Regions from separate parts of the Homo sapiens genome. Here all the other regions are linked to region 1. The links come from fine-mapping of genetic effects on gene expression. A gene starts in region 1. Each other region holds a variant in brackets. All regions are shown on one strand. Distances are between the middles of the regions. Region 1 holds the start of WARS2 (tryptophanyl tRNA synthetase 2, mitochondrial). Region 2 overlaps WARS2 (tryptophanyl tRNA synthetase 2, mitochondrial). Region 3 overlaps WARS2 (tryptophanyl tRNA synthetase 2, mitochondrial).

Region 1 (10,982 bases):
ACAAATTGTTGTATGAAGTAAATAAGATAAAGTATGTAAAACACATACCATGAGACTTTAGCACATAGCAGGCACTAGCTGTTAGTTCCTTTTCTGAAAGACATGGAATATAGAGATAGATAGATTAGATAGACAGATAGATAGATAGATAGATAGATAGATAGATAGATAGAGAGATAGAGAGAGAGAGAGAGATGGGTTTTGGGGTTTTTTTGTTTGTTGGTTTTTCAGACAGGATCTTAACTGTGTAGTGGCACAATCGCTGCTCACTGAAGCCTTCCTGGGCTCAGGTGATTCTCCTACCTCAGTCTCCTGACTAGCTGGGACTACAGGCATATGCCACTAAGCCCAGCTAATTTTTTGAATTTTTTATAGAGACAAGGTCTCACTATGTTGCCCAGGTTGGTCTGAAATTCCTAAGCTCAAGAAATACACCTGCTTCGGCCTCCCAAAGTGCTGGGATTACAGGCGTCAGCCACCGTGCTTGGCCAATAGATGTTTAAATAAATAAATAAATAAATTTGTATAAAAAATATATATTTGTCTGTGTGTGTGTGTGTGTGTACATATAGTTGTAGAAGCTTCTGCAGACAGCTCTTCTGTAACTTGCAGTCATTCGAAAGATATACTGAGCAAGAATTTGGAGGTCAGCAGCATCACTCTCTTCAGCATTTCCAGGCCATGGCTGCCGTACTATCTGCTAGCATAAATCCTCAGCATTCAGCTACAGTTCTTCCTTCCTCTATATTTTCAACAGTTACTATCAGTAGTTTTCATTAGCTCCTCAAAGCTATATTGCAAAGAATTTAAATATTATTATCATTTTAATAAACTAGGTCAGTTCACAAAAGCAACCAACCACAAAAGCACTTTAAACAAATAAGACTCACCGACTGAGATTAAAAGGAGCTTTAGAGTGGATCCACGCAACACCTTTTTTTGCCATGAGAGATGAAGTAACCTCATCAAACTGGCAGAGTAATCAACTAGCAAAATTCCCAGATGATTGTAGTAGCTCTTGAACACATACCATGCTGATTAGCTCATGTTGCATGTTGCATGAACAATACATGGCAGAGAAAAGCTAAAAGTCAGTGGGAACACTATGCCAATTTAATGTCATTAACATTCCAGAAACCTACAATAACAAATACTAATTGCAAAATATGGAATGAAATGCCTACATTAAATCTTACGATCCTAATTCCACCATTGTGTGACATTGGGCAAGTTACTTAACCAAAGACTATTTCTTCACGTTTGAAATAAGGTGGCAATACCTGCCTCAAGGCCTTGTTATGAACAATATCTCTTCGTGGTATTCTTGCCAAAAATCCATAACCTCAGTCTAAACACAAAGAAAAATCAGACAAACCTAAACTGAGAGACATTCTACAAAATAACTGACTGGTTCTCTTCAAAAGTGCCAAGGTCATGAAGGAGAAAATGTATGCATTAGAAGAGACATGAAAGCTAAATGCATTGTGGGACCCTGGATTTGATCTTGGACTAAGGAAAGGGACAGTGAAAAAACTAGTGAAATTTGAACTAAGTCTGTAGCTAAATTACTATTATTGTACCAATATTAATTTCTTGATTTTGATAACTGTATTATGATTATTCAAGACAAAGCTTGGTGAAGGGTATACAGAAATTCTCTGTACTAATTTTGCAACTCTGTAAATCTAAAATTATTTTAAAATTAAAAAAATTTAAATCTTGTGAGAATTAAATACAGGGTCAAAAATTTTAAACCACGCTTTTTTTCTTTTTAGGCGTAATTCTTCATCTAATGGCTATACTTAGCGATAGTTAACAGCAAGAACATTATGTGAATACTGGCCAAACCCAGACTAGGAACCGCTAATAATGAAACATGTTCAACTGCAATAAAATGTGGACACTTTATCATACTTCAACTGAATAACAAATACTTTTGCAAAAATCTACTAACCATCAATATTTCACTCTTTGCACAATACAATCATGACTTAGTGCTTAAAGAAGTATGGATTCTGTGTTTGGCCAATGATGACAGGCTTAAATTTACCTAATACCATCAACATTTAAACAGAACATGTCAGATCTTAACTCCTCTGACTTTATGACTACGCTCATCTTGTCAGATTTCAACAGTTTTCTGTCAGGCAACACCTGGCAAAATAAACCGTTTTCATATAAATTGTAGACATCCCATAATGAGTATGGAGTGATGTGCTGTTATTCCTGTTTCTCCCTGTTTTATTTTCAACTTGAGTTTACATCTGCATCCTCTGAGATAAGCAAAGATGCCCTATGCCAACATTTTTACCCAAGATTTTGTTTTAAAAAAAGAAAACACTAAAAACCATTAAAACAACTTAGGAATCACAACACTTTATTAGTTAGAGTTTCTAACATAGCACTGTTATGGCTCATTCACTTTTGCTTTACACCTAAGGGAGTAAGTGCACAGCCAAGGCTAATAAAAACTAACTTGGCTATTTCTTGGTTTTTGATGGAACCATTCATATGATAAATATACATTTTTTCCCATTATACTATACTCTTGCAAAATAATTTTTTTCTACAAAGGTTATGAGATATCATAAAAATGTCTAATGCATCTGGTTTAAGAATCCAATGCCTCTTTCACATATTTCTGCATCTGTTCACAAAATCCCTTTGACTTCAAAGGAAGCTTTTCAAGAGAAAAAGAAGATACATACAGGAAAAGTGGCCATAAATTTTTAGTAGTCCTTTTCTAAGGCCATTTTAATAACAGCATTGTGGGACAAGTATCTTCCTCAGAATCCTAAAATATCACAAATGATATTAATGACTAAAGATCTGTATAAAGATTTATGATTTCAAAACGTTTTTCTGGTTATTAAAAAGTGTGTGTCTTCAATTTAGACATGTGAAAAATATGTAATGCTATAAAAGGAAACAAATAACTTTTAACCCACTATTTAGGAAGGCCAAAGCAAAATAAAAAAGTTAAAAATGTTTGTTCCCTTCCAGGCTTTTTTTCTATGTATACGTTTATATAAACACTTATATATAAACATAACATCGTAATAACACTATGAACACAATTTTGTATCTTTTCTCAGTCTTTCAAAAAACCACATTAATCTTTCAAACCATCATTTTCAATGACTGAAATTATATGTAGATTTATACTTTAAAAAAATACTCTCACATTTAATACTTATTCTACTCAAAGCTAAATTAAAGGTTTAGAAACATTCATCGGTACTGGAAATTCTACATCTTGAAACAATCTAGATTAATAATTAACTTTAATAGCCCTATTCATAAATGCCACTGAAACAATAGTAGAGGTTTAAGAAATTTTTTCTTTAGCATTTATAATGACTTAGTGTCTTAAACTTCCCTGGGCAGTCATTAGCAGGCTGCAGTTTGTCTTTTTTTTCTCTCTCTCTTTGATTCTCTATTCTCAAGACATCTTCAATTCTTTAGTTTGGAATAAGGGGAAGTTTGGGTCTACGGCTTAGCTACTTTGATAGCATAGGTGTTAATGTGCTATAAATTATAAATAATCATCTCATTCTAGTTCTGCAGAATCAAACCCTCAAATTTCAAGGAGAGGAATTTTTGATAAATTTATCTAATTTTGAATTGTCTTACCTAACATTGCTGCTGAAATTTAAGGTGACATTTGAATAGTTGTTTGCTGACAAGCAGCTTTCCGGTATATATTAATATATTAGCTTATAAGAATTTTGTGAGGCTCACATTAATAAAAAACGGAAGTTCAAAAAATTTATGACATGACTAGAAAAATAAGTTGAACTTAAATTTTGGTTTTCATAATTACTCTCATTGGCTTTGTTTTGGCTTCATAATCATGGAACTATAGATTTTCCAGAGGTTGAAAGAACATTAACGTGTCAATCAGTCCAGCTCTCTTCCTCCACTCAATATGAGCAAAAAAAGAAGAAAAGTCCCAGAGAGATTGTGACTTGTCACACAGCTGTCAAGTGGCAGACCAAACCCTTGACCTCTAGGCTACCTTCCTGTCTAGCGCTGTTTTCAACACAACAGTTACAATAGGTGCGACATCCTCACACCTACTCATTATGGCAATACATATGCAAATGATGCCGGGAAATTACCTAATAAAATCACATTCTCTCCTTTCTCTCTAGTTCCCAGAATATATCTCCCGTAGATAAAGTATGTCAAAGTGCTTGCCACTGAGACTGTACTTGGAAGACGTTTGGTAAAATCCTGAATAACTGAAAGGGTATCCCCTCCCCCTGACTTTTTTGCTATGAGGGTAAAATTCCAAATATTTAAGACAATTCCCAATAAGACCAGGCCGCGACATGGTCTCCGTACGACGAGATTAATGGTAACAGCAGTGTTGTCAAGCGCAGGACAGGACAAACTCTGTAGCAGCTTGCGGTCACTCTTTCACAGCCTGCTAGATAGAGCAGTGCTGTGGAGCCACCAGGAGCAACCAGAATGGAAGATGCACTGACACTTGCTCAAGTACCACACTGCCAACCTGCTGCCCCGACCCAAGCTGCCCAATGCCTAACAAAACTTCTCTACTCTCTCCGATAGCCCCTTAGCGTGTTGTTAGGGTAAGGAGGGTAAAAACAGTAATAAGACCACAAGAAGAGCAGTCTCTAAAACAACCCGTCTCTGAAAACATCACACGCGGGGTAGGCTCACCGCGTTGCCCGGCAACAGCGGCGGCGCTCCGCTCCCAGAACTGGAGGTGGCGGCAAGAGGTCAGAAAGCGGCGCGCTTTTTCCACCAAGAAACCTTTACGTCATCACGTATCCTTGCAACGTCACTACGCTCTGAGCAGGCCGACAGTCATAGACGAGTAGACCTTAGGCGAGGGAAGGCATGTACTTTCCCTAAGAAGCGGGAGGAGAGAAATAAATAGAGGGCAGTGGGATGAGAAGAACCTCGCGGGATGGGAAGCCGCGGAGGGAAGGGCCGTCTTTGGTTACCTGGAGAGCGGGAGCAGCTGCGGATCCCTTATGAAGTGCCCGGATGAAGCTCCAGCGCTCACGCGCTTTCCGCATTGAGTGCAGCGCCATCTTGAGAAGGGCGGAGCCGTCTTGTTTGGAATGACGTCTGTTCAGAGAGCCAATCCCAGTCTCGCGACTCCTGCTTGCTGGGCGCGGCTTGGGCCTCCAGGCTGCGCAGCGCAGCCGCTATCGGGCGGACTGCAGTTCTTGCCGAGCAGGTGGGGACAGGAGCGGGGTGGGGCTTTAGTGTTTTTCCCTGGATCCCTTGTCTGCTCAGCCTTCCTGGAAGGAGAATTTCCTTGGGGGTTATTAGTAGCAACGCTTTAGACTGGAAGAAAGTCAAGTAGGCTGCATTTCTGATCTTAGCTATGTGAAGGCAACCTTTAAAAAGTTTGTTTAGAAACTCCCAGTTCTCTTAGAGGGTAATATAAGTGGTCTTTTTAGACATGTGTGGCCTCATTTCCCTTTTTTTTCTTTGAGACAAGGTCTCACTCTCGCCCAGGCTGGAGTGCAATGGCGCGATCTCGGCTCACTGCAACCTCCACCTCCCAGACTCAAGCTATTCTCCTGCCTCAGCCTCCTGAGTAGCTGGGACCACAAGGGTGCGCCACCACGCCCGGCTAATTTTTGTATTTTGGTGGAGACAGGGTTTCACCATGTTGCCCAGGCTCTCTCAAACTCCTGAGCTCAAGCCAAGCCATCTGCCTCGGCCTCCTAAAGTGCTGGGATTACAGGCATGTGCCACCGCACTGGACTTATGTGGCCTTATTTCATTCGTCCTGTAAACTTTGTTGAACCCTACCGTAATGTGCTGGGCACTGAAGGTACAGAGAAAGACATATCTTGTCTTCAAGTTGTGTACAGTCTAATAGAGTAGCGGATAAATAAATGATGTACACTTAATAGGTGTTAAAGAAGCAAGCACCGCAAGTTTTAAGGAGGAGTGGTTATGACTGTGGTGTTTCAACCTAGTCTAGGGAAGGCTGCAGGAAGGTTATACCTGATGGAAGAAATTGTTTTGTTTGGGGTTATGAGAAAGTTTAATACAGTTTTTCTGCTTCTGTTAATTCACCTAAAAATCTCCCAGACAGATAACGAGTGTTTCAGTAAAAATATAACTGGAAGAAATTCATGACAATTCCTTTATGTGTTTTGTTTATAATTCATCCAGCTACTGAAAATTACCAAGGAGAGGTAGGAGATAAGAGATGCCTATAAAGGAGCTGAAATCTACCAGGGTAAGACAAAACAGTAAATTAAAACCATATAGGATAATCTTGTAGGTATACAAAGTACTGGTGAAGTTCAAGTATAATTGGTGTAATTTAGAAGTGAGCAGGAAAGGGATGAAGGCAAAAAAAAAACTAGGAAATCAAGTTATAGTCTTCAACAAAGCTGATCAGTTTGGTTTTGGCTGTTAAATTTGAGGTGCTTGTAGTACTTCCAAAATGTGATGCCCATTAAATAGATACATGGGTCTGGAGCTCAGAAGAGATTTGAACTACCAAACAGATGGTAATTGAAACCAAGGAAATCCTTGAGACCATCAGATAGAGTTTGTGGAGTGAAAGTAGCCAGATGATGGAAATAAAGGAGCCAAGAGGTGTTGTAGAACCCAAAGAATGTGATATTACTGAGACCCTGGAAACAAACCTTGCCAGGGGAAGGGGGATATATGTTATGCCTTGTAAAATGCAGTTTAATAAATGCCCTACATGTTTTACTCATACATAGAGCAAAGCATTATAGTACAGTGTTTTACATATATTTTATTAATGAGATTACATGACCCTAGCAATTAGCAAGATTAGCTTTCTGACATCTTTAGTCATCTAGATAGCAAGATAAAACCTAGCAATAAGACTATGGTGCACCAAAAGCTGTCAAAGGGTGTACCTACTTTATTTCTTCAAGAAGTAGTTCTTAGTCGTATCTGCAGACTCCTATGACCAATAATATTTCCGTGGGAGGTATTTCCAAGACATAGTCCCACTAAAAAAGGTGGGACTTTAAGACCACAAGTTTTATAACTTTAGTATCCTGATTTTTAAAATTGAAAATATTTGCTAATTTTTAGACTTTGTTAGAAGTAATAAACTGTGTTTTGCACCGTGGCGGTGACCTGGTAACTCTCAGGTGTCACTCAGCCAGCCTTGCTTCTTGGACAAGGACTATAGTTTATATTTCTAACATCTCCCCCAGCACCTAGAATAGTCTCTTATGCAGAGTAGGCACCTCTTTTAAAAGTAAATTGGATTTTAACAAATTACACAGCTTATTGTCAGCAATTGTTATGCTTTTAACAGCCAGAAGGAACAGTTAACAGAAAAGACACAGGATGTATTAAAAATGAACCAGTTCTGTCTACTTTTGTACTTTTTCACAGTAAGCATTTTGGTGTTGGGGAAAGTATGACTACAAAGCTCACCATCTTCTAAGAGGAGGAATATATTCAGCTCAGTATATTTAACGTATTTTAATAAGTTTTTAATAATGGTAACCATGACTCCTCGGGGAAAGATATATTATTCAATGTATCTTTGAAGAAAAAACCTACAATACACTTTTGAAATGTTTTCATACAAAATGGTTAACATTTAAAAGTGTGTATATATCATGGGCTGGGCATAATGGCTCACACCTGTAATCCCAGCACTTTGGGAGGCTGGGGCGGGCAGATCTCTTGAGGTCAGGAGTTCGAGACTAGCCTGGCCAACATGGTGAAACCCCATGTCTACGAAAAATACAAAAATTACCCAGGCATGGTGGTGTGCGCCTGTAGTCCCAGCTACTCAGGAGGCTGAGACACGAGAGTTGCTTAAACCAGGGAGACAGAGGTTGCAGGGAGCCGAGATCAAGCCACTGCATTCCACACTGGGCAACAGAGCAAGACTGTCTCAAAAAAAAGAAAGAAAGAAAAGAAAAGTGTGTATTATGCAGTTGGTTATATGGAAAATTCTCCTATGGAATAATTCATTCTCCAACAGTGGTGTTTAAATGAAGCACCACTGTATTTAATGACGGTATTTTACCACTGCTATCATTTGAGTAAGCTAAAGAACTTTGGTAAAGTAAGATATAAATGTTGTATGGAAAGCAGACTTTAAACATACCTAAGATTAAAAAGTTTTATAGTCCTATCCTTATAACGTGAACTATATGTCTACATATGTTCATGCTTACAATTTTGAACACTTGTTTAAATTTTGATTTCTCATCAACACTTTTACTTTATAGTAAGTTCTGGTAATTTTGTTCTCTCCTTAACATTCCCTGCAAATCCTCTCCTGCTAGAAACAACAGATTAAAACCAGACTGGCAGTTGGGAAATGGTTTCTATTGCAACCATGTGTGTCAGAAGAAAGGATTAGGTTTCCTTGTCCAAGAACATCAAGGGGAACCTCCACCTCTGCAGACACACCTCTATTCCTTAGTAATGGAGAGTTTATACCTAGTTAGATTTAAATGGGATAAGGGAAGAGTTTAAATCCATTCTTAGCTCAAGCAGTATAATCAGCCCTCAAGTCTCAAAGTATCCAATTTTCTTTCTCTAATTTAATTCTAAGTGTCAGGTTGGTATTAGATGCTGATCAAGGTAATGGAGAGTTGCCCTACACATTTATTCACTTAAAGAAGAATTTTGCAGACTGCAAAGACTAGATGGCAATTGTATTCAAAACTTACTTAAAGCACAATTCATTCACCCCTGACCTTTCATTTATATTGAGTATGTTTTTTCAAATATAGAAGAGATTCCATAATAAAAGCAAACAAACCTCTCTCTTCATAATTATGGACTATAGTTCTCTGTACATGTTCTCTGACCATGCCATCTTATGCTGGACCTATTATAAGGACCCAAATTAAAGTGAGGCAGATCCTGCTTTTGAGTGAGATAACCTCCAAGAGTCATAAAAGTATATGGGAAACTGTAATAATGATTATTCTTTTTTTACCTTTGGCTTAACTTTAGTTCTTCCTCTTATTTTATAACTAATGAAACTTGTCCACAGATATTAAGTACCTTGACCAAAATCACACAAGTAAAAGCAACAATGAGAAGAACCTTCGGCTGGGCGCAGTGGCTCACACCTGTAATCCCAGCACTTTGGAAAGCCGAGGTGGGCGGATCACCTGAGGTCGGGAGTTTGAGACCAGCCTGGCCAACATGGTGAAACCCCATCTACTAAAAATACAAAAATGAGCCAGGCATGGTGCTAGGCACCTGTAATCCCAGCTACTCGGGAGGCTGAGGCAGGAGAATCGCTCGAAACTGGAAGGCGGCAGTTGCAGTGAGCCAGGATTGTGCCACTGCACTCCAGCCTGGGCAACAAGGGCGAAACTCATCTCAAAAAAAAAAAAAAAAAGAAATCCATCTCCAGATGAATGTTCTACTTTGACACCACAGTAAAGCTGAAGAGGCTAAAGCTAGGGCGGGTCCAAATGGGGAAGGTTCCACATAAAGCCACATCCTTGTGTCAGGTTTCAAAGTCAGAACAAGCAAATGTCTTATTTTTAAAGGCTGATACTCTCATCTCCACCCCTAATGTAAAAAGATGTTGTCTTTCCCTAGTAGTTTTTGGGAGAGAGCAAATTATAGCATCTTACTGTAAGGACAATAATCAGAAGCTCATCTTACCTTTGGGAAGGCTTAAAGGGTTTTATAGGGAGTCATCATTGTCACTTTATTTCTGGAAGAAAGGGCAAAATCCAAGAAGAGACTAAGTGATGTGAATAGCAAAATGGGATTTTTCTCAGAGCACTTTTTTCTTAAGATTAAGGGTCAAGGCCACACTTTTTATATTGCCAGGTTCAACTTCTTGCCTTAAGGACAATTTTCCACCCCACAACAGTGAAGATATTTTGATGAGAGTTGAGAGAAGGTGGGGAAGGTGGGTAGAGTCAGAGCAGACACAAGTGAATAATATGCATGAAAACTGACTCCATTACAAGTAGAGTCCTTAGTGTTCAGAACCAGGAGGAATACTGATTACATAGGAATGTTACAGGCCCCAGGATTCCTGTTCATATTTAATGTTTTCTCTCCATACTCTTACAAATGGCCATTTGAACATTAGAGAACAGGTCTTTAAAGAAGGCAGAGAATTGCTCCCTTGGGTATGGATCTAGAATAGAGAATAATTTGGGAGAATTGTAAGACTATTTCAATGGTCCTTATCCCCATTTTTCATCATCAGTCTTAGGACATGTATCCCATAGAGGAAATACAACTTTAAAATTAGCAAAATTCAACTTTTGAAAGTGTATTTTACTTTGTTGTCTCTCTTTGCATGGTGTATCTTTTCCACTTGGTATGGTCCTAAAGACAAGATCCTTATGCTATCTGTACACTTACTCTATTTTAAAATCACCATCTTTTGCTCCCAGCTACTTTATAACTTGGGGGAGCAGGGTTTGCCGTTCAAAGCTTATCTTTTACAAAAGGAACTTTAACAAGATCTCCAAAAAGCTCCCTCGAGTGGCTTTTAGATAGGCTCTTTTCTGTTTGTCTTTGTAATCAAACTACATTAGATCCTATCCAACACCCTGTCTATCTAGTATGATGCTATGATCCTAGGTGTGACTACTGAAAGTAAAACATAATGCTTAGATCTTGATATTTATAAAAACATGATTAAAAGATATCTCTGCCTCTAAAAATAGGGTCTTGACCTCACTGTCTCAGTCAAATTCCATTTCAGCCAGTGAGATTTCACTGGACTTCCCCAGATGCATTAACAACTGCAATCAACTATGTTTTTCTTTACTTTTTCCCTTAATAGGTAGAACTGAGCATGATCTTGGAGAAAATCTGCATACATTACTGATCTCTGAACCATTTACCCTTCACGTGCCTCTTTTTCCGTGTATGTGCCTCTTTCTCCTTGTATGTAAAATGAGTGAAAGAAAGAGGAGAGCTAGATGATACCATTGTAACTCTTGTATTTCAAGACACTCGTTTCTGCCTTGTCTCAGATTACAATCATT
Region 2 (9,255 bases), 100 kb before region 1:
ATGAGCGTAGAGGAGAGAACTTGGGACCCGCCTTGGGGATTTTGATGGGGAAATGTGACCACGGTTCTGTGAATCCAGATTTTAAGTTCGCATCCATTGGCTGAATTGATGATATAAAAAACATCATCAGTCGTTCCAACACCCACCTTCAAAATCAGAATGTTTAGAGTCTAAAAAACGCTGCCTTTCAGCATTTTTTTTGTACTGAATAAACAAGCACTATTCTTAAGAATAAGGGGTAAGGGTTTTACTCTCAGATTTGCTTCTCTTATGGAGTGATATCGTACAAGCTAATTGGATTCTCTCAGCCTCACTTTCCTCATGTGTAAAATGACAATAATTCTCCTAATTCATAGGGGGTTGGTGAGACTAAACTGAAATGAATGCAAGAAAGCACTTATTAAGAATATAATTCAGGGACTTGGGCTCTTGTACAATAAATAAATCAGGTCAAAATAATGCAACCTCCTTAGAAGATCATATCCCATATCTCTGAATTAAAAAACAAATTATTGCTGGAACAGTTGGTGTTATCTCTTGGAAAACAAGTTAAGCAGCTTAAATATATTAAATCAGGCACCGTCTCAGTGACAAACAAACTATAAGAATGGACTTGTTTTTATGAGCTCTGAATACAAATTGGCATCTGATCAAATGGCATCTCAAGGATTATACATCTAAGACCTCTATATATTGCTTTATAAAAGGGTTGAAGTAGATAACGTGTGCATCTGTTACAGTAAGTACTCCAGAGAGAAGCACAAATGATACTCCATTTCCCAAATTACTCCTTACTTCAATCACATTTCTGCAGGCCAAGGAGTGTGCCTCAATAATTGGGGATTCAGACAGCTATGCCTTCTTGATTTATTTTTTGTTGTTGTTGTTCACAGCATTTTGTTGATGGGATTTGGAACACTGTCGTATTTCAAAGCTACAAAGCAATATTCATCAAATAAAGCCAATAATCAGCTATACCAAATTAAATGTCCCAAAACTATAACTTTTTCTTTTTAGGAAAGCTGCCGTTATCAGAATGCATGGAGTGCAAGGCACAAAAGCCTTGCTGTGATTCGTTGAAACTTCCTATAGAAAACCCACCAATTTCTTCACCTCCTGGCACACAGTGTATGCTAATTCTTTGGCTTTTGCTGATCCAATTTGTAAAACCTTCTCTAAATGGTCCTTGTCCAGCTTCAGTTTTTCAATTTCACGCTTAATTGGGGCAAACTTCTCAATCACAGCATCTGCCACGGCCAGCTTGTAGCGAGCAGTGTTCATGCCCGCGCTGCGGCGCACCACTTCCTCCACGGAGAGCCCCGTCACCGCGGCATGCACCGCCACTATGTTGGACACGCCAGCGCGGCCAGCCGGGTCATAGGTGACCTCCGAGGTGAAGTCTGTCACAGCCTTGCGGAATTTCTGCACTATCTCCTCTGGGCTGTCTGTTATTCGGACGGTGGCCAGTTTGTCAGGGTCTGATTTCGACATTTTGGCAGAAGGATCACGTAGGGATTTTACCTTCTTCATGGATGCTAGGTTAAAAACACCAACACACACATACCCAAAACAAAAACAAAACAAACAGATCACCAAGATGTACACACAGACAGTTCCCAACTTGCAATGGTTTGAATTATGATTTTTCAACTTTACAGTGGTGCAAATGTGATATCCATTCAGTAGAAACTGTACTTGAAATACCCACACAACCATTCTGTTTTTCACTTTCAGTATAGTATTCAATAAATTACATGAGATATTCAATACTTTATTATAAAATAGGCTTTGTGTTAGATGATTCTGCCCAATTATAGACTAATGTAAGTGTTCTGAGCACGCTGAAGGTGGGCTAGGCTAAGCTGTGATGTTCAGTAGGTTATGTGTGTTAAATGCATTTTTGATTAACAGTGTTTCCAACTTACAATGGCTTTATCAGGATGTAACCCAATTATAAGTCAAGAAGCATCTGTTCATACTTCATAAATTATATACTACTTTATAAATATTATTTTAAATTTTTGGTCTCTTCCATACTTTTAAAATATTTTTAGTTATCCTTTTCAATAATCCAACATCTTTTTCAGGAATCCAACGTAGTCTACTTTCTAGTCCTACACTAGAGAAAACAATGAGGACTCTAGTTACAGATCCTGAAGCCTGTCTACAAGAAAGCTGAGGTTAGTCCCAAGAAAGTTCCAAGCCTATCTATTGTCCAATCCTCTCTTTAGAATATACCCTGATGTAACAATTATAAGTTTCTTACTTACTGAGAATGGACTCGGGCACTGGAAAGAACTCCCCATACTTCTTGTTGAAACCTTGTGCTAGATCCTGAACTAGTTCCATGTGCTGGACTTGATCCTCCCCAACAGGAACGTGTGTGGACCTTTAATAAAAGACAGACAGAAAAACAACAGCAAGGCTCTTTCTTAGAGACAGAAATGATATTGCAAGCAGCTGCATTTCCTGTGAATATTTCACTGTTGGTATTCAACAAATGTTCACCAACTATAGAGGGAATGTTTAGACCTAAGTCTTTATCTATGGATCAGACAAAAGCCAAAGAGATGTTTCTCTACTCTAGTTGTGTTTTTTCCACAGCAGGGGAATACAGCCATCAACACCAGCATGACAGGATCTTGCTGGGAGGGAGGAATGGGATTTTAAATAGCATATGCTCTAGGCACAATTGTGTTTTAAAACTACTCCTCATTCCCTCACCCAGTCAGCACATATTATTCCCAGCCCTGACCAGATGCTCTTTACCTCAGAACTACAGCTCATACTTGAAAGACACCCCACCCCACTCTTCAAATCAAAGGCAGCAGAAAGTTCTTCAGGCAAGAGTTTTTCCTCCCTGTCACATAGGGAGTAATTCAATATTCTTTGGAGTAAGCTTCATTTTCAAGTACATTGCAATCACAGGACAATTAATATGTTGCAGAGAACTTAAAATCTATAAGTACAATGTAGATGGCTATCAAAAACTATGTGGGATGAAAAAAGCAAGTTGGAGAAAACATGAAATACACTGACATTTACGTAAATTTTACAAGTGCCTATGGAAATATATCTGTAATAATAAGTAAAAAAACATACTGGAAGCTCCTCCCCAAATTTGTAATTGTAGCTGCTTCTAGAGAAGGTGGAAAGGAAATAGATCTGAAGAAAAGAACAAAGGAGACTTGAATTTTATCTGTAATATTTCATATTATGAAGAAATGAAGATGTGAAACCAAAAATATCAGAATATAGGGAATGACTTCATCATGAGTTTAATCCCATATGTAAAGTTTGCAGTGTCAGATCATGACATAGTACATCAAATAAGGGAAGAATGAACCATTATAGAGAAGTCTTGATGAGGAAAATTTTATACTGAAGCAATATGGCGGGATTAAAAAACAGGCAATTTTATACATGCAATGCTTGGCTGGGAGTTTATACCTGATAATACAAGTAATACAGTGCGCTGAGGTTTTTTTAATCAAAGAAACAATATTGCTCCTGTGAAAAAAGCAGCGAGCCATCATAGGCAAGTTTCTTACCCTTTCTAAGCCTTCGTTTCCTCTGTAAAGTGAGGTTCATCATGGAGCTTACCTCATATAGCTCTTTCATGGATAACACGTATACTAATTGATAGTAAGAGCTCAATAAATGGTTGCTATTGATATAATATATAACTATATATTCATTAATATCTGACATGATGAAGGACAAATAAAGGTAAAATGAAGGACAAATGGTAAAATAAAGATACTATAGAGAACCTTGATGAGGGGTACACTGACTTTTTTCACACCAGATCATTTTCCTTTTTCAGAGCTGACATACCACAAATAGTAATGCATAATCCCAGAGATAGTCACAGACCTGGGCAGTGATCCTGATATGCATAGAAAACTTACTTGAAACTGACAGTTCACATATCTGATCAGGTAATCCCAAAATATAAATGGTATGTTACAGGAATTCTGAGAGCTCTTTTAATTTAAGGAAAACAAGAACAGAACAATCAATGGAAAGGCAAAATGTAAGGACCATGACAGCAGACCCAGAGTGGTTTCTCTTCTTCTAAGGTCAATAAGTGAATGTTGGCCAGGTGCATTGGCTCACGCTTGTAATGCAGCACTTTGGGAGGCCAAGGTGGGCGGGTCACCTGAGGTCGGGAGTTCGAGACTAGCCTGACCAACAAGGCGAAACCCGGTCCCTGTTAAAAATACATAATTAGCTGGGTGTGGTGGTGCATGCCTGTAATCCCAGGTACTCCGGAGGCTGAGGCAGAAGAATCTCTTGAACCCGGAGGCGGAGGTGGAGGCTGCGGTGAGCCAAGATTGCGCCATTGCACTCCAGCCTGGGAAATGAGTGAAACTCTGCCTCGAAAAATAAAAATAAAAATAAAAATAAATAAGTTAATGTGGGAAATTCTACAGAATAACTATTAGGGCCATAGCCATTGCTCTCTTCCACGCAGCCTGGAGTAGAAAGCCACTGGATCAGTGAGTGGCAAAAACAAAAATATTCCTTTTTATGTTTTCCTCAGCACTCATGGTCCTACATGATACTCCTCTCTGGGATGTACATGCAGACACCCCACCTTTGTAACTTTCTCTTCTTTGAGTGGACTT[C/T]GCTATACCTGTCTTGTAATTATAGTGAGGCTGACATGCAGAGGTCACCTTGACGCCCCCAAGCCAAATTAGCCAACAGAGCAGATTAGAAAGCAATTACAGTAGCCCATAGGAAATCACAATGGACTGCAACCAACACAGAAAAAACAATTACCATAATCAATACACTTTAAGCACATCAAAATGAATATTTCCACATGTCAAAATGGTTCCAGATTCACAAAGCAACCAAACTAAACAGAAAACACATTTAGTTTTCATAATGACTCTGCATGCATCTTTGCCTGATGTCGGATCCTTGCCTCTTTTTTAACAATTCTGTGGGGTTTTGCTTTTTAAAAACAAAAAGGATTTAAAAAATTTTAATCTTTTTCATCTGCCCCATTGCTCCACTTGGCTTTTTCATCTGATTTTAGTGTGTTTGTTTCTAGCCTTCCCTCCCTGTGCTCCTGCTGCTCCTTTCACCTCCTATAATTTATCTTAGCCTTTACTTCTCATCCATTGAGTTTACACTTTACATTAATTCATCTTGTCTTTGATTCTACTCACTTATGTGCCTTATTCTCTTCATATTTTCAGCCTTTCTCCTCAGTCTTTCTTTCACTTCAAATAATTTAGTGCTGTTCTTTAAAAATTTATACCCTGCATAATGATATCCCTTTTAATGTGTCTTCTCTTTTTTTCTGTTTTCCTTTTTTTTAAGTTACTCTGACTGTGCTTTCTTAGACACAACATAAAACAAAAGCCTTTCATAATTTTGATTGTTATAACTTCTGTCATATAATAATGCCTCTGATCTTCTCCTTTGGTGACTAAACCATTTTTCTTTTGCTTAGTTCCTTTTTGCATCTATGATACTTGAGATCACCCCACCCTTCTGGCAGAATTAGTGTCCAGATGAATAAACGTTGCCTACATATATCTGCTCACAGAGATTTGTTCTCTTATTATTTCTTTTTCTACTTTTTTGGCTGTGTTTGTAAGTTTTCAGTGCTGCTGCCTTTAACCAGCCCGGCTGGGACAGGAGTTTGGTGGTGTTTTCTTGTCATAAAGGATTAATTCCTCATGACTAGTTGCTTGTAGGATATGCAATAATGACTCTCTAATTCAGCAATTACTTATTGAAGACCCACGATGTGAAAGTCCTGGTGCTGGGTACTGTGAAAGATATAATGAAGGGTTTACTTTCTAAAGATTTAAGGCCACCAGGAGGAGAGATAATACCCAATGAAGCTTTAAATTCTTCTGGCCAGTCCTCCTTCAGCATCCCCTATCTCAGTGAATGGCAATGCTATCAATCCAGTTGGGTAAGTCAGAAATATCGGGTCATCCCTGACACCTCCCTCTCATACACATCCAGTCCTATCAGTTTTACTTCCTAAATGTTTCTTATATTTGTCTACTTTTCTGCATCTTCACTGTCATCATCATGGCCCATATTAGACTAGTGAAATAGCCTCTAAATAGATGGCCCCAGATATTCTTCTCTTCCTAAAACTCATTCTCTGTATTTTAATCAATTCTCTTTTAAAAGTATAAGTCATATCAAATTTGCTGTATCCTTAAAATGTACAAATAGCTTCCTGTTACTTTTTAGAGAGTGTACTGGATTATCTGTTGACATCTCAGCACCATTCTCTCCCTTCTATGCTACCTCTTGATTTTCAGGGGCTGCAGCCTGGAAACTACATTTTTCATACTGCCTTTCAGTAGGGTTCTGGTTTGGTGTAGGCATTTGCCTAATAGAGGTAAAGTGGAAAGAGAAAGATAAAAAATTATTGCTTAGGTAGAGTGGGTGAATATGTGGATATGAGCAGACTACAGAAATGAGTAGCTTCCTGCATCTCGGAAAAATCCAGGCTCAACCGGCCTCACAAAGAATGAAGCACTTCAAGAACTGGAAGTTTCCAAGGCAGCTATAGGAAATCCAGCATTCTTAGAAAAAGCTCTCAAATGCTGTTTTATGACAGTCTCAAAGAAAGAGAAATAATAATAATACAAAGCTCTCAAAAAGCTTATTTTCAATGGTCCTCAATGGCAGTAGCCTGATTCTTAGACATTATGATGACACCTCTTCTCTGACTCTACCAGTCTGAAGTTTCTGAGCAATCATTTTACTCTCTATACTTTCTGGGTTTTGGTTTGGTTTGGTTTCTGCCTGCAGTTTCTTGAGGCCTCTGTTTTCTCATTTTTCTATATCATTTTTGCTTTTGTTTTCAGTCTTCTTTTTGTTTTTATTTTTTGAGATAGAGTCTCACTCCGTCACCCAGGCTAGAGTGCAGTGGTGCACTCTCAGCTCACTGCGGCCTCCTCCTCCCGGATTCAGGCAATTCTTGTGCCTCAGCCTCCCGAGTAGCTGGGACTACAGGCACACACCACCACGCCCGGCTAATTTTTTGTATTTTAAGTAGAGACAAGGTTTCACCATTTTGGCCAGGCTGGTCTTGAACTCCTGAGCTCAGGTGATCTGCCTGCCTCGGCCTCCCAAAGTGCTGGGATTACAGGCGTGAGCCACTGTGCCCGTCAGTTTCCAGTCTTCTTATCCTCTTCCCAAATTTTTCAGATTCTTGAGAAAGATAATCTGATTAGCCCAGATACTCACTTTCATCTCTATCTGAATGAATTTAGTGGAATCTCTCTGAAACTTCATTTCCCCATCTGTAAAATGGGGATAATGCCACCCACTTATTTCATAGCCCTATTGTGAGAACTGAATAGATAATGAGTGTGTAGCAGTTAGTAGATGCCTGGCAAATAATTCTCAACACATGTCAAGTCCTTCCTTTCCTTTCCCTCAAGGCCATGTATAGTGCCCTTTTTCCGGATCAGTGGCATTGTAGGTACTTAGCAACTATTTGTTGTTGTTTAATAAAAATTATATATGTATGTGTGTGCCTTTATGTGTATGTGTGTGTGTATATATATATGTATACAACACATATATATAACACATATACATACACACAAACAGAGAGAGAGAAAAAGAGAGAGAGAGAGACATATACACAGAGAGAGAAAGGGGAGAAATAAACATTTACTTAATACATAGCCAGCTATTTGAAATTAGGCATTTGGAGAAATAATACAGATGCAAAATAAAAACTATGAACACTTGCTATTTTTGAGCATTGGAATATTTTGTCTGTATTCAAATTTCTTGTACTTATCATACTCTCAAGCTGAAGATGGTCTCAGCTGTCCATTCCAGGGTTCCTTACCAAGTTCTGCCAAAATAGTTACATAAATCTTTTATAAACTTATCTGAAAGGCTCCTCTTCCATTCCTTTCTATTATGTTTGTTTTCTGACCCACCATGCCACTCATTCTAATGATGATTTTGACAAAAGGAAACACTAATATTTGGCTTGCGTCAAAATTTTATGAAGAGGTCACACATAGATTTGCTGATAGGAAAAAAAAAACACAGATGTTTTATCCACCCTTCAATCTACCATTCTACCTGTCTACATTTATAATACAAATATTCATAGACATTCTGGCAATGACCTTTTTCAAAATCCAGAAATGTGTGGAACAAAGCAAAACAAAAACAAATAAAAATACCTTCAAGTGCTTCATCTCTGTTATAGGGAAAACAATGATATAGCTTAAAAATCAAACCTGAGTTTAAATCCTGACTCTGCTACTTATTATTGAGCAATTAGGAACTTCTAAACTTGAGAGAAAACATAATGAGACAAATACAAAATGTACATTAGCAGAAAAAGTGCTGTAGACCCATAGTCTTGCCCAGATGTTCCAAAGTCAACTGACTGGCTACTTAGCTTCAGGCAAGTTGTTAAACCACACTGGACTGAAGCTGTAAAGCAATGGAATTAAAGAAGAGGCTCCTTAAAGCTCCTTCCCATCCTTTGCTTCATGGTATCATTAAGAATGTAGTCATTCTTGTTAAAGTTTATGCTTTTCCATAGCCCTAAACTCAGAGGACTCTTCCATTACAGCTCTTGAACTATTAAGGAAACCTACCACGCTCATGTGTTTTCTTATTCTAGTGCTGACAATTCTCAGGTTTTGTTTTTTGTTTTTGTTTTTGGAGCCAAGGTTTCACTATTTTGCCCAGGCTGGGCTCAAGTGATCCTCCCGCCTCAGCCTTCCAAGTAGTTGGAACTTCAGGCATGCAACATCACACCTGGCTAGCCTTTGGTTCTATAAAGAAGTAGGCCTTGAAACAAAATTAGACAACATTGTAATTATCAAAGACATAGTCATCATTAGTCATAACCAAGTAACAGCTCCTAGTCACAGTACTGCCTGGCCTATATTTCATTTTAATCCTTTAATAATCCTGTGCTTAATAATTATTCCCGTTTTACAGGTGAGAAAGTCAAGTTTCTTCACAGAACCTTTACAAGCAAATATCCTACCTCTCTAGAAAATGTATTATTAAGACTTTCATTATACTTTCATTTGTTACTTATTGGAGAATATTGTTCTAGCCTTTTAAATAAGTCAAAAGCTACTTATTACAAATAATAAATGTTATCAAGAGTCCAGCATACAAGTTAATACAACAAACAGACAAATAAGCCTTGCAAGTTTTCATCAGAATTGAAGATAGGCTGCATGTACTCATGGACATTCCCTGTTTGTAGAGCTAAGCAGC
Region 3 (10,982 bases), 82 kb before region 1:
ATTTGCAAATCATATGTCTGGCAAGCAGTTAACATCCAGATTATACAAAGAACTCTTAAGGCCAGGTGCGGTGGCTCACCCCACTAATGCCAGCACTTGGGAGGCCAAGGCAGGAGGATTGTTTCAGCCCAGGAATTCAAGACTAGCCTAGGCAACACAAGAAGGCCCCATCTCTATCATCCCCCAACCAATTTTTTTTTAAATTAGCTAGGCATAGAGGTATGTACCTGTAGTCCCAGCTACTCAGGAGGCTGAGGCAGAAGGATGGCTTGAGCCCAGGTGGTCAAGGCTGCAGTGAGCTATGATAACACCACTGCACTCCAGCCTGAGCAACAGAGAGATACCCCCTATCAAATAATAATAATAATTAAATAATACTATTTAATAAATTATAATTTATTTAATTATAAATTATTGTTAAATAAAACAATAACTATTATTATTAAATAAAACATTTTAAATAAAGGACTCCTACAAATCAACAGCAAAAACAAAACTAAACATCAACTCGATTGAAAAATGGGCAAAGGATTTGAATAGGCATTTCTCCAAAGAACATATACAAATGGCCAACAAACATATGAAAGAGATGCCCAATCTTACTAATAATTAGGGAAATGCAAATCAAAACCATAATGTGATATCACCTTATATCCACTAGGATGGCTGCCATATATATATATATCTCCCAGAAAATAGTAAGTGTGGTGAGGATATGGAGTAACTAGAACTCTTGTATACTGTTGATAGGAATGTAAAATGGTGCAGCTGCTATGGAAAATAGCATAGCGATCCCTCAGAAAATTAAAAATAGAATTACCATATGATTCAGCAGTTCCATTTCTCATATATATACATAAGAATCAAAAGCAGGGTCTCAAAGAATATTTGTACACTCATGCCCAAAACAGCATCATTCACAATAGCTGAAAGATGGAAGCAGCCCAAATGTCCATTATAAGATGACTAGATAAATGAAATGTACAAACATATGATGTAACATTATTCAGCCTTAAAAATTAAGAAAATTCTGACACATGCTACAATATGAATGAACTTGGAGGACATTATACTAAATGAAATAAACCAGCCACAAAAAGACCAATATTGTATGATTTATCTGTATGAGGTATACATTTGAGTAGTCAAACTCATAGAGACAAAAGGTAAAGTGGGAGTTGCCAGGAACTGTGGGGGAGAGGGGAATGAGTTATTGTTTAATGGGTATAGAATTTTCAGTTTTGCAAGATGAAAAAGTTCTAGAGATTGGTTGTTCAACAATGTGAATATACATTACAGAACTTTATACTTATAAATGGTTAAGATGATAAATTTAATGTGTTTTACAAATTTCAAAAATTTTTAAAAAGGTATATAAAAATATAGATGAAACGTATTTCTCAAGTTGGAAAAAATGGTAAATTTTATGTTATGTGAGTTTTGTTTCAATAAATTGTTTTTAAAAGTCACATGGAAGGGCTGGTTTGAGGCAAAAAGGAAAGGTCTGGTTTCAGATATGCTGAACTTGAGACTTTGAAGATATTCACAGAGATGTCTAGAAGATAGCTGGTAATACAAGTCTAGAATTAGAGAGAAACGAAATGGCTAGAAAAAAATCTGAGAAGTGGTCAGGCATGGTGGCTCATGCCTGTAATCCCAGCACTTTGGGAGGCTGAGGAAGGTGGATTATCTGAGGTCAGGAGTTCAAGGCCAGCCTGGCCAACATGGCAAAACCCCATCTCTACTAAAAATACAAAAAAGTTAGCCAGGCATGGTGGTACAAAAAGGTTAGCTGGACATGATGGTGCGCACCTATAGTCCCAGCTACTTGGGAGGCTGAGGCACAAGATTCACTTGAACCCAGGAGGCAGAGGTTATAGTGAGTCGAGACCATGCCACTGCACTCCAGCCTCAGCAATAGAGGGATAGTCTGTCCCAAAAAGAAAAAACAAACAAACAAAAAACAGAGAAGAAAGGCAAGAAAGAAAGAAAAGAAAGAAAGAAGAGAGAGAGAAGGAGGAGGAGGAGAAGAGGGAGGGAGGGAGGAAGGAAGGAAGGAAAGAAAGAATATCTGAAAGGAGAAAGAAAGAAAATCTGAAGGGAAATAGTCAAAAGTTATGGATTGGAGGACAATTTTGGGGGATTAAAGAAAAGCAGTTGATAAAAGAAACAAACTATCAGTATAGGGAACATGATACATCAACAAATCAAATTATTAGTTTACGGAATAAAACTCTGAGCAGGCTGTTTCTTGGTTGCATTGTGAATACATGATTCAAAGATCAGATGAAAATTTCATACCATAACTTTTTTTTTTTTTTTTTTGAGACGGGTCTCTCTCTGTTTCTCTGCTGTCCAGGCTGGAGTGCAGTGGTGTGACCTTGGCTCACTGCAGCCTCGACCTCCCAGGCTCAAGCGATTCTCCTGCCTTAGCCCCACCAAGTAGCTGGGATTACAGGCAAGTGCCACCATGCCTGGCTAATTTTTTTTTTTTTTTTTTTTTTGTAATTTTAGTACAGACGAGGTTTTGCCATGTAGCCCAGGCTGGTCTCAAACTCCTGAGCTCAAGCGATCTGCCTGCCATGGCCTCCCAAAGTGCTGGGATTACAGGCATGAGCCATCACGCCTGGCCCATACCAATTTTTTAGCTGCAGTAAACTACCTGCAGTGTTCCCTACACTACACAATTCCATGGGCTTTCCTTCTTTCTTTTGGTTCATATAACAACATCCTACGAGCCTATTCATTTAAACATTATATATTTTTATAGTATATATTTAGTCCATATACATTCTATATATTTGTAGACTTAGACTATAGACTAAATATATAATATATATATATACTAAATATATATATTATATATAGTAAATCAAGCCCAGTGAGGCATACTTTATAAACAATAAGATGCACTCATTTTAGCTGTTCAGTTCAATGAATTCTGACAAATCTATACACCAATCAAGATACAGAAAATTTTGATTCTCCCAAAAGAAGTTCTCTCATGTCCCTTTGTACCCCTTGCTCTTGAAACCACTGATCAGTTTTGTTACTGTGGATTTGTTTGGCTTATTCTATATCATTTAAATGAAATTATATAATATAAACTCTTATGCTTGGCTTTAATACTCAGCATGTTTTATACAACTCTTTTTGTAGATTATTGGTAAAGTCTTTTGGGTAAATACCTAGGAGTAGAATTGCTGGGTCACGTGGTAAGTATACGTTTAACTTTGACAAACTGTTCTCTAAGGTAGATTTATCATTTTACAGTGTTACTAGCAATGTAAAATAATCCCAGTTTCTCAACATACTTACCAAAGCATAGTATTCTCAGTATCTTTAAGTTTGGTCATCCAAGTGGGTGAACTGGTATCTTACTATGGTTTTTTTTCTGACGACTATGATGTTGAACTTTTCATGTGCTTATTAGCCATTTGTTATTATTATTATCATTTTTGAGATGGAGTCTTGCACTGTCGCCCAGGCTGGAGTCAGTGGCACGATCTCGGCTGACTGAAACCTCTGCCTCCTGGGTTCAAGTGATTCTCCTGCCTCAGCCTCCTGAGTAGCTGGGACTACAAGTGCACACCACCAAGCCCGGCTAAATTTTGTGTTTTTAGTAGAGACAGGGTTTCACCACATTGGCCAGGCTGGTGTTGAACTCCTGATCTCGTGATCCTCCCTCCTCGGCCTTCCAAAGTGCTGGGATTACAGGCGTGAGTCACTGCGCCTGGCCCCATTTGTTACCTTTGTTTGTGAAATGTCTACTCAAATAAAGTGGCCATTTAAAATATTAGCATGGCCGAGCACAGTGGCTCATGCCTGTAATCCCAGCAGTTTGGGAGGCTGAGGCGGGAGGATCACTTGAGGTCAGGAGTTCAAGACCAGCCTGGCCAATGTGGTGAAACCCCGTCTCTACTAACAATATAATCATTAGCCAGGCATGGTTGCAGGTGCCTGTAATCCTAGCTACTCTAGAGGCTGAGGCAGGAGGATTGTTTGAACCCGGGAGGCAGAGGTTTCAGTGAGCCGAGATCCCACCACTGCACTCCAGCCTGGATGCAGAGCAAGACTCCATCTGAGAAGAAAAAAAAAAGAAAAAAAATTAGGTTGTCTCCTTATTATTAAGAGTTTTTTATACAGCTGGATAAAAGCCTTGCCAGATATATGTACTGTGAATATTTGCTCCCACTTTATGGGTTACCTTTTCATTTTCTTAATGGTGTTTTTGAAGAACAGAGGCTTTATCTTTTGATGAAATCAAATGTATCAATAGTTTCTCTTATATTAAGTGATTTTGTGTACTATTAAGAAATCTTGGCCTATCCTAAAGGCCTGGAAAATTTTCCCCATATTTTCTTTCAGAAGTTTCATAGCTTCAGATTTTACATTTAAGTCTGTGGTGGTTTTAAGTTGATCTTTTTTGTGAATGGTATGAGGTGAGAGTCAAGGTTCATGTTCTCCCTCACATGGACATCTAGCTGGAGACCTAACACCCTCTGCTGAAAAGACTATTTTTTCCCCCACTGAACTGCTTTGAACCCTTCATTGAAAATATTTGACCATATATATGTGGGTCTACTTCTTGATTCCCTATTTCTTTTTTTTTTTTTTTATACTTTAAGTTTTAGGGTACATGTGCACAATGTGCAGGTTAGTTACATATGTATACATGTGCCATGCTGGTGCGCTGCACCCACTAAACTCGTCATCTAGCATTAGGTATATCTCCCAATGCTATCCCTCCCCCCTCCCCCAACCCCACCACAGTCCCCAGAGTGTGATATTCCCCTTCCTGTGTCCATGTGATCTCATTGTTCAATTCCCACCTATGAGTGAGAATATGCGGTGTTTGGTTTTTTGTTCTTGCGATAGTTTACTGAGAATGATGATTTCCAATTTCATCCATGTCCCTACAAAGGACATGAACTCATCATTTTTTATGGCTGCATAGGATTCCATGGTGTATATGTGCCACATTTTCTTAATCCAGTCTATCATTGTTGGACATTTGGGTTGGTTCCAAGTCTTTGCTATTGTGAATAGTGCCGCAATAAACATACGTGTACATGTGTCTTTATAGCAGCATGATTTATAGTCTTTTGGGTATATACCCAGTAATGGGATGGCTGGGTCAAATGGTATTTCCAGTTCTAGATCCCTGAGGAATCGCCACACTGACTTCCACAATGGTTGAACTAGTTTACAGTCCCACCAACAGTGTAAAAGTGTTCCTATTTCTCCACATCCTCTCCAGGACCTGTTGTTTCCTGAATTTTTAATGATTGCCATTCTAACTGGTGTGAGATAGTATCTCATTGTGGTTTTGATTTGCATTTCTCTGATGGCCAGTGATGATGAGCATTTTTTCATGTGTTTTTTGGCTGCATAAATGTCTTCTTTTGAGAAGTGTCTGTTCATGTCCTTCGCCCACTTTTTGATGGGGTTGTTTTTTTCTTGTAAATTTGTTTGAGTTCATTGTAGATTCTAGATATTAGCCCTTTGTCAGATGAGTAGGTTGTGAAAATTTTCTCCCATTTTGTAGGTTGCCTGTTCACTCTGATGGTAGTTTCTTTTGCTGTGCAGAAGCTCTTTAGTTTAATTAGATCCCATTTGTCAATTTTGGCTTTTGTTGCCATTGCTTTTGGTGTTTTAGACATGAAGTCCTTGCCCATTCCTATGTCCTGAATGGTAATGCCTAGGTTTTCTTCTAGGGTTTTTATGGTTTTAGGTCTAACGTTTAAGTCTTTAATCCATCTTGAATTGATTTTTGTATAAGGTGTAAGGAAGGGATCCAGTTTCAGCTTTCTACATTTCTTTTCAGTGA[C/T]CTGTAAGTCTATGTCCATACCACACTCTCAATTATTATAGCTGTATAATAAGCTTCAAAAGGCAGTATAAGTCCTCTAGTTGTGTTTTCTTTTTCAAAGCTGTTTTGAGTATTCTAAACACTTTGCATGGCCTTATACATTTCAGATTCAGTGTGTCAGTTTATATAAAAATGTATGTTGAAATTTTCATTGCGATTGTGAGAAGTCTATAGATCAATATTTAAAAAAAGTAGAGATCATGTCCTTTGCAGGAACATGGATGAGCTGGAGGCCATTATCCTTAGCAAACTAACACAGGAACAGAAAGCCAAATGCTGCACGTTCTTACTTATAGGTGGGGACTAAATGATAAAAACACATGGACACATTGAGGAGAAGCACACACAGTGGGGCCTTTCAAAGGGTGGAGGGTAGGAAGAGGAAGAGGATCAGGAAAAATAACTAATGGATACTAGACTTAATACCTGGGTGATGAAATAATCTGTACACCAAACCCCCAAGACACAAGTTTACCTATGTAACAAACCTGCACTTGTACTCCTGAACTTAAAAGTTTAAAAGATAACATATTAACAATATTGAGTTTTCCAATCCAATCTAAAAACAAGGCTTTCACTTCTAGTAATGGCTACTTAGCTTGGTATCAGTCTTCTTGGGCTGCCATAACAAAGTACCATAGACTGGGCTGCTGAAATAACAGGAATTAATTTTCTCACAGTTCTGATGGCTGGAAGTCTGAGATGAAGGGGCCTGCATGGTTGTGTTCTAGTGAGTGCTCCCTTCCTGTCTTCCTGGCTTACTGATGGCTGCCTTCATGCTATAACCCCACATGGCAGGCAGAAAAAGAGAAAAACAGACAGATCTTTCCCTCTTCTCATAAGGCCACAGGCCTATCAGATTAGGGCTCCCTCCTTAGGACATCATTTAACCTTAATTACTTCCTAAAGACCCTATCTCTATATACAGTCATACTGGGGGTTAAGGGAGCAACATATGAATTTTGAGGGATACAACTCAGTTGATAGCAAGCTCCTATTGGATAAATTCTAACACAGATAGCAAGTTTCAACTCTGAGCAAAATATAAAAATCAACGGCCTGAAGGCATTGGAGAACAATCGAAAGCAGGCAGAAACTAGGGGTGTGGTTTACTCTTTTAAAAAATGGATAACACGGAGTAAGTGTCCTGTTTTGTGACTTTCTGTCTGAGGGCAGTCCTCAGTTGCAGACATAAAAAGCATCTAAATATGATAGAAACCTGCATTCTTACTGGCTTGAAGAATGAAAAAACAAAGTTTGGGTCACCATAATGCCTGGAAAATAAGCAGTGAAATTTCTAAATAAAGAGTCAGAGTGGTATAGCCTTATATTCTATGTATTAACTCTACCCAAGTATCTGGCCAACCCCTGAATTCCACATGCACGGGGCCACCTCCAAGCTGTCCAACAATGGCTAAAACAACTGGCAAAATATTTCAATTATTGCTTACTACTGGAAAGACAATTTGGGGCTTGAGCCTGCTAAAAAAACAACAGATTTTTATTTAAAGATATTCTTCAGAGGAATACAACATAATTTAAAATCTCTTCAATTTGTCATTTAAAATATTCAAGATACTAGCCAAAATTATTAGACATATTAAAAAATAGGTAAACAAAAACCATTCTTAAGAAAAGAGGCAGTCAATGGAGACCAAACCCGAGATGTTCCATATGTTGTATTTAATTAGCAAAAATTTTGAAGCGATTATTACAACTATGCTTAAAGATACAAAAGAAAATATTCCTGAGATGAATAAACAGATAGAAAATCTCAGCAGATAAATTTTTTAAACCAATAAAAAAGGGCCAATAAAGATACTAGAATAAAAACATACAATATCTGAAATAATATCATTATAAAGTCTTAAACACAGATTGGGAGGGCAGAAGAGTCACTGAATGAAAAGATAGATCAGTAGAAATTAACCCACTTAAGGAAGATAGAGTTAGAAGATTGAGAAAATAAAGGAACATAGTCTCATGAAACTACATATTTAGGATCAGGAAGTTGGATGCTACCTTCTCCCTTAGGGAGAAACTAATTCCTCATAGTTATTTTTACAGCATTAAAGTGTTCACAGGTTATTGCTCTGTCTGTAAGTACAGAAATGGTAGTAGAGAATCAAAAGAGCAGCAACATGACTGATCTAATGGATTCTATTAGTTAATGGAATCTAGTAGCCAACTGAGTAAGCAGGTTAACAAAACATTTTCACCTGCTCCATGAGACTCTGACTCTGGATCAACAACCTAGGTCTGTATTTACCAGATAAAACAGTATGTGTTAACAACACTGCTAGGCAACATTGCTTATGATAAAAATAATCCCCAGCTGGTAAAGTACATCTAGGCTTAGAGAACTATAAATACCTGAGAGAAAGTAATAGTTTAGGCTTTCCTGAGTATAGTGACCCTTGTAACTGGTACATCTCTTTCAGTGACCCCAAGGTCTATATATGAAATGTAAAAATAGATATTGGCTCTTGTGGAAAACTGAGGCTTCTTTGGTAAGGGAGATTGTACCACCCACTGATGTAGATCTCATCTCCTTGCATTTGAGCTGGAGAAAAAATAGTTCCTACACCTATGAGTACACCTGGAGAGAAAATACCTCCTGGAGCTAGCTGCCTACTGCTACAGGGACTGCTCTAGTAAGGACTCTTGTTTAGAGAAGCTACCTTGCTGGCAAGCTAAGGTTCTTGTTCTATGCCTTTTTAAGTAGACTAGTACCAAACATAACCTGTGGTGGTCTCATGATTCTGAATATTTACTTGAACCTACAAAGATAGCATGGTGGCCACTGGAGATGAGCAATTAAAACAGTGGTTTCCAAAATGAGATTTGTGATTCTCAGAGGCTGTGCAAGACTATCTCCTGAAGCACAGCAAATAAAAAAAAAAGGACTTTTACTTATATTCATTTTTTAATCCCATATTTTAAATTTTTGCTTTATACAAAAGTTGTATGATTGATATGGTTTGGCTGTGTCCCCACATAATCTCAACTTGAATTGTATCTCGCAGAATTTCCACGTGTTGTGGGAGGGACCCAAAGGGAGGTAATTGAGTCATGGGGACCCGTGTTTCCCATGCTATTCTCATGATCGTGAATAAGTCTCACTAGATCTGATGGGTTTATAAGAGTTTCCACTTTTGCTTCTTCCTCATTTTTCTCTTGCCACCTCCATGTAAGAAGTGACTTCTGCCTCCTGCCATGATTCTGAGGCCTCCCCAGCCATGCGGAACTGTAAGTCCAATTAAACCTCTTTTCTTCCCAGTCTCAGGTATGTCTTTATCAGCATCATGAAAACAGACTAATACAGTAAGTTGATACCAGTACAGTGGGGCATTGCCGAAAAGATACCTGAAAATGTGGAAGTGACTTTGGAACTGGGTAACAGGCAGAGATTGGAACAGTTTGGAGGGCTCAGAAGAAGATAGGAAGATAAGGGAGAGTTTGAAACTTCCTAGAGACTTGTTGAATGGCTTTGCTCAAAATGCTGATAGTGATATGGACAATAATGTACAGACTGAGGTGGTCTCAGATGGAGATGAGGAACTTGTTGGGACCTGGAGCAAAGGTGACTTGTTATGTTTTAGCAAAGAGACTGGCAGCATTTTGCCCCTGCCCTAGAGATTTGTGGAACTTTGAACTTGAGAAAGATGATTTAGGGTATCTGGCAGAAGAAATTTCTAAGCAGCAAAGCATTCAAAAGGTGACTTAGATACTGTTAAAGGCATTCAGTTTTATAAGGGAAGCAGAGCTAAAAGTTTGGAAAATTTGCAGCCTGACTATGCAAAACCAATTTTCTGGGGAGAAAAGAGAAACCAATTTTCTGGGGAGAAATTCAAGCCCGCTGCAGAAATTTGCATAAGTAGCAAGGAGCCTAATGTTAATCCTCAAGACCATGGGGAAAATGTCTCCAGGCCATGTCAGAGACCTTCACAGCAGCCCCTCCCATCACAGGTCCAGAGGCCCAGGAGGAAAAAGTGGTTTTGTGGGCCAGGCTCAGGGTACTGGTGCTGTGTGCAGCCTAGGGACTTGGCGCACTGTGTCCTAGCCACTCCAGCTGTGGCTGAAAGGGGCCAAGACAGAGCTCGGGCAGTGGCTTTAGAGGGTGGAAGCCCCAAGCCTTGGCAGCTTCCATGTGGTGTTGAGCCTGCAGGTGCACAGAAGTCAAGAACTGAGGTTTGGGAACCTCCGCCTAGATTTCAGAAAATGTATGGAAATGCCTTGGATGCCCAGACAAAAGTTTGCTGCAGGAGCGAGGCCCTTATGGAGAACCTCTGCTAGGGTAGTGTGGAAAGGAAATGTGGGGTTGGAGCCCCCACACAGTGTACCTACTGGGGCACTGCCTAGTGGAGCTGTGAGAAGAGGCCACCATCCTCCAGATCCCAGAATGGTAGACCCACCGACAGCTTGCACCGTGAGCCTGGAAAAGCCACAGACACTTAATGCCGGCCTGTGAAAGCAGCCAGGAGGGAGGCTGTACCCTGCAAAGCCACAGGAGTGGAGCTGCTCAAGACCATGGGAATCCACCTCTTGCATCAGCGTGACCTGAGTGTGAGACCTGGAGTCAAAGGAGATCATTTTGGAGCTTTAAGATTTGACTGCCCCACTGATCTTGGACTTGTATGAGCCCTGTAACCCCTTTGCTTTGACCAATTTCTCCCATTTGGAATGGCTGTATTTACCCAGTACCTGTACCTCCATTGTATCTGGGAAGTAACTAGTTTGCTTTTGATTTTACAGGCTCATAGGCAGAAGGTACTTGCCTTGTCTCAGACGAGACTTTGGACTGTGGATTTTGGGTTAATGCTGAAATGAGTTAAGACTTTGGGGGACTGTTGGGATGGCATGATTGGTTTTGAAATGTAAGGACATGAGATTTGGAGGGGCCAGGGGCAGAATGATATGGTTTGGCTATGTCCCCACATAATCTCAACTTCAATTATATCTCCCAGAATTCCCACATGTTGTGGGAGGGACCCAGTGGGAGGTAATTGAATCATGGGGGCCGGTCTTTCCCATGCTATTGATAGTGAATAAGTCTCACCAGATCTGATAGGTTTATCAGGGGTTTCCACTTTTGCTTCTTCCTCATTTTTCT

What was found. PIP is the estimated chance that this variant, and not a neighbour inherited with it, causes the effect.
Region 2: its variant is the best candidate, but not a certain one, in a credible set for the expression of WARS2 in subcutaneous fat (GTEx, PIP 0.56).
Region 3: its variant is the best candidate, but not a certain one, in a credible set for the expression of WARS2 in spleen (GTEx, PIP 0.51).

The regions. Positions count from the first base shown.
Region 1 is chr1:119,135,582-119,146,563 of GRCh38, forward strand. It overlaps WARS2 (tryptophanyl tRNA synthetase 2, mitochondrial), which reads right to left and starts at 5,072. Exons shown (of 6, transcript NM_015836.4): 1 at 4,974-5,072. The coding sequence starts at 5,063. WARS2-AS1 (WARS2 antisense RNA 1) reads left to right here and starts at 4,815. Exons shown (of 7, transcript NR_125975.1): 1 at 4,815-5,212; 2 at 6,166-6,232. RefSeq lists an enhancer at 4,844-5,153.
Region 2 is chr1:119,031,825-119,041,079 of GRCh38, forward strand. WARS2 (tryptophanyl tRNA synthetase 2, mitochondrial) reads right to left here. Exons shown (of 6, transcript NM_015836.4): 5 at 2,271-2,389; 6 at 1-1,535. The coding sequence ends at 1,087. Among named protein-coding and RNA genes, the nearest start is that of WARS2-IT1, 11 kb to the right of the region's middle. The variant C/T (reference allele first, on the strand shown) is at 4,632.
Region 3 is chr1:119,053,705-119,064,686 of GRCh38, forward strand. All of the region lies in intron 2 of WARS2 (tryptophanyl tRNA synthetase 2, mitochondrial), which reads right to left. It overlaps WARS2-IT1 (WARS2 intronic transcript 1), which reads left to right. Exons shown (of 2, transcript NR_126447.1): 2 at 9,150-9,583. Among named protein-coding and RNA genes, the nearest start is that of WARS2-IT1, 12 kb to the left of the region's middle. RefSeq lists a silencer at 6,629-6,829. The variant C/T (reference allele first, on the strand shown) is at 5,831.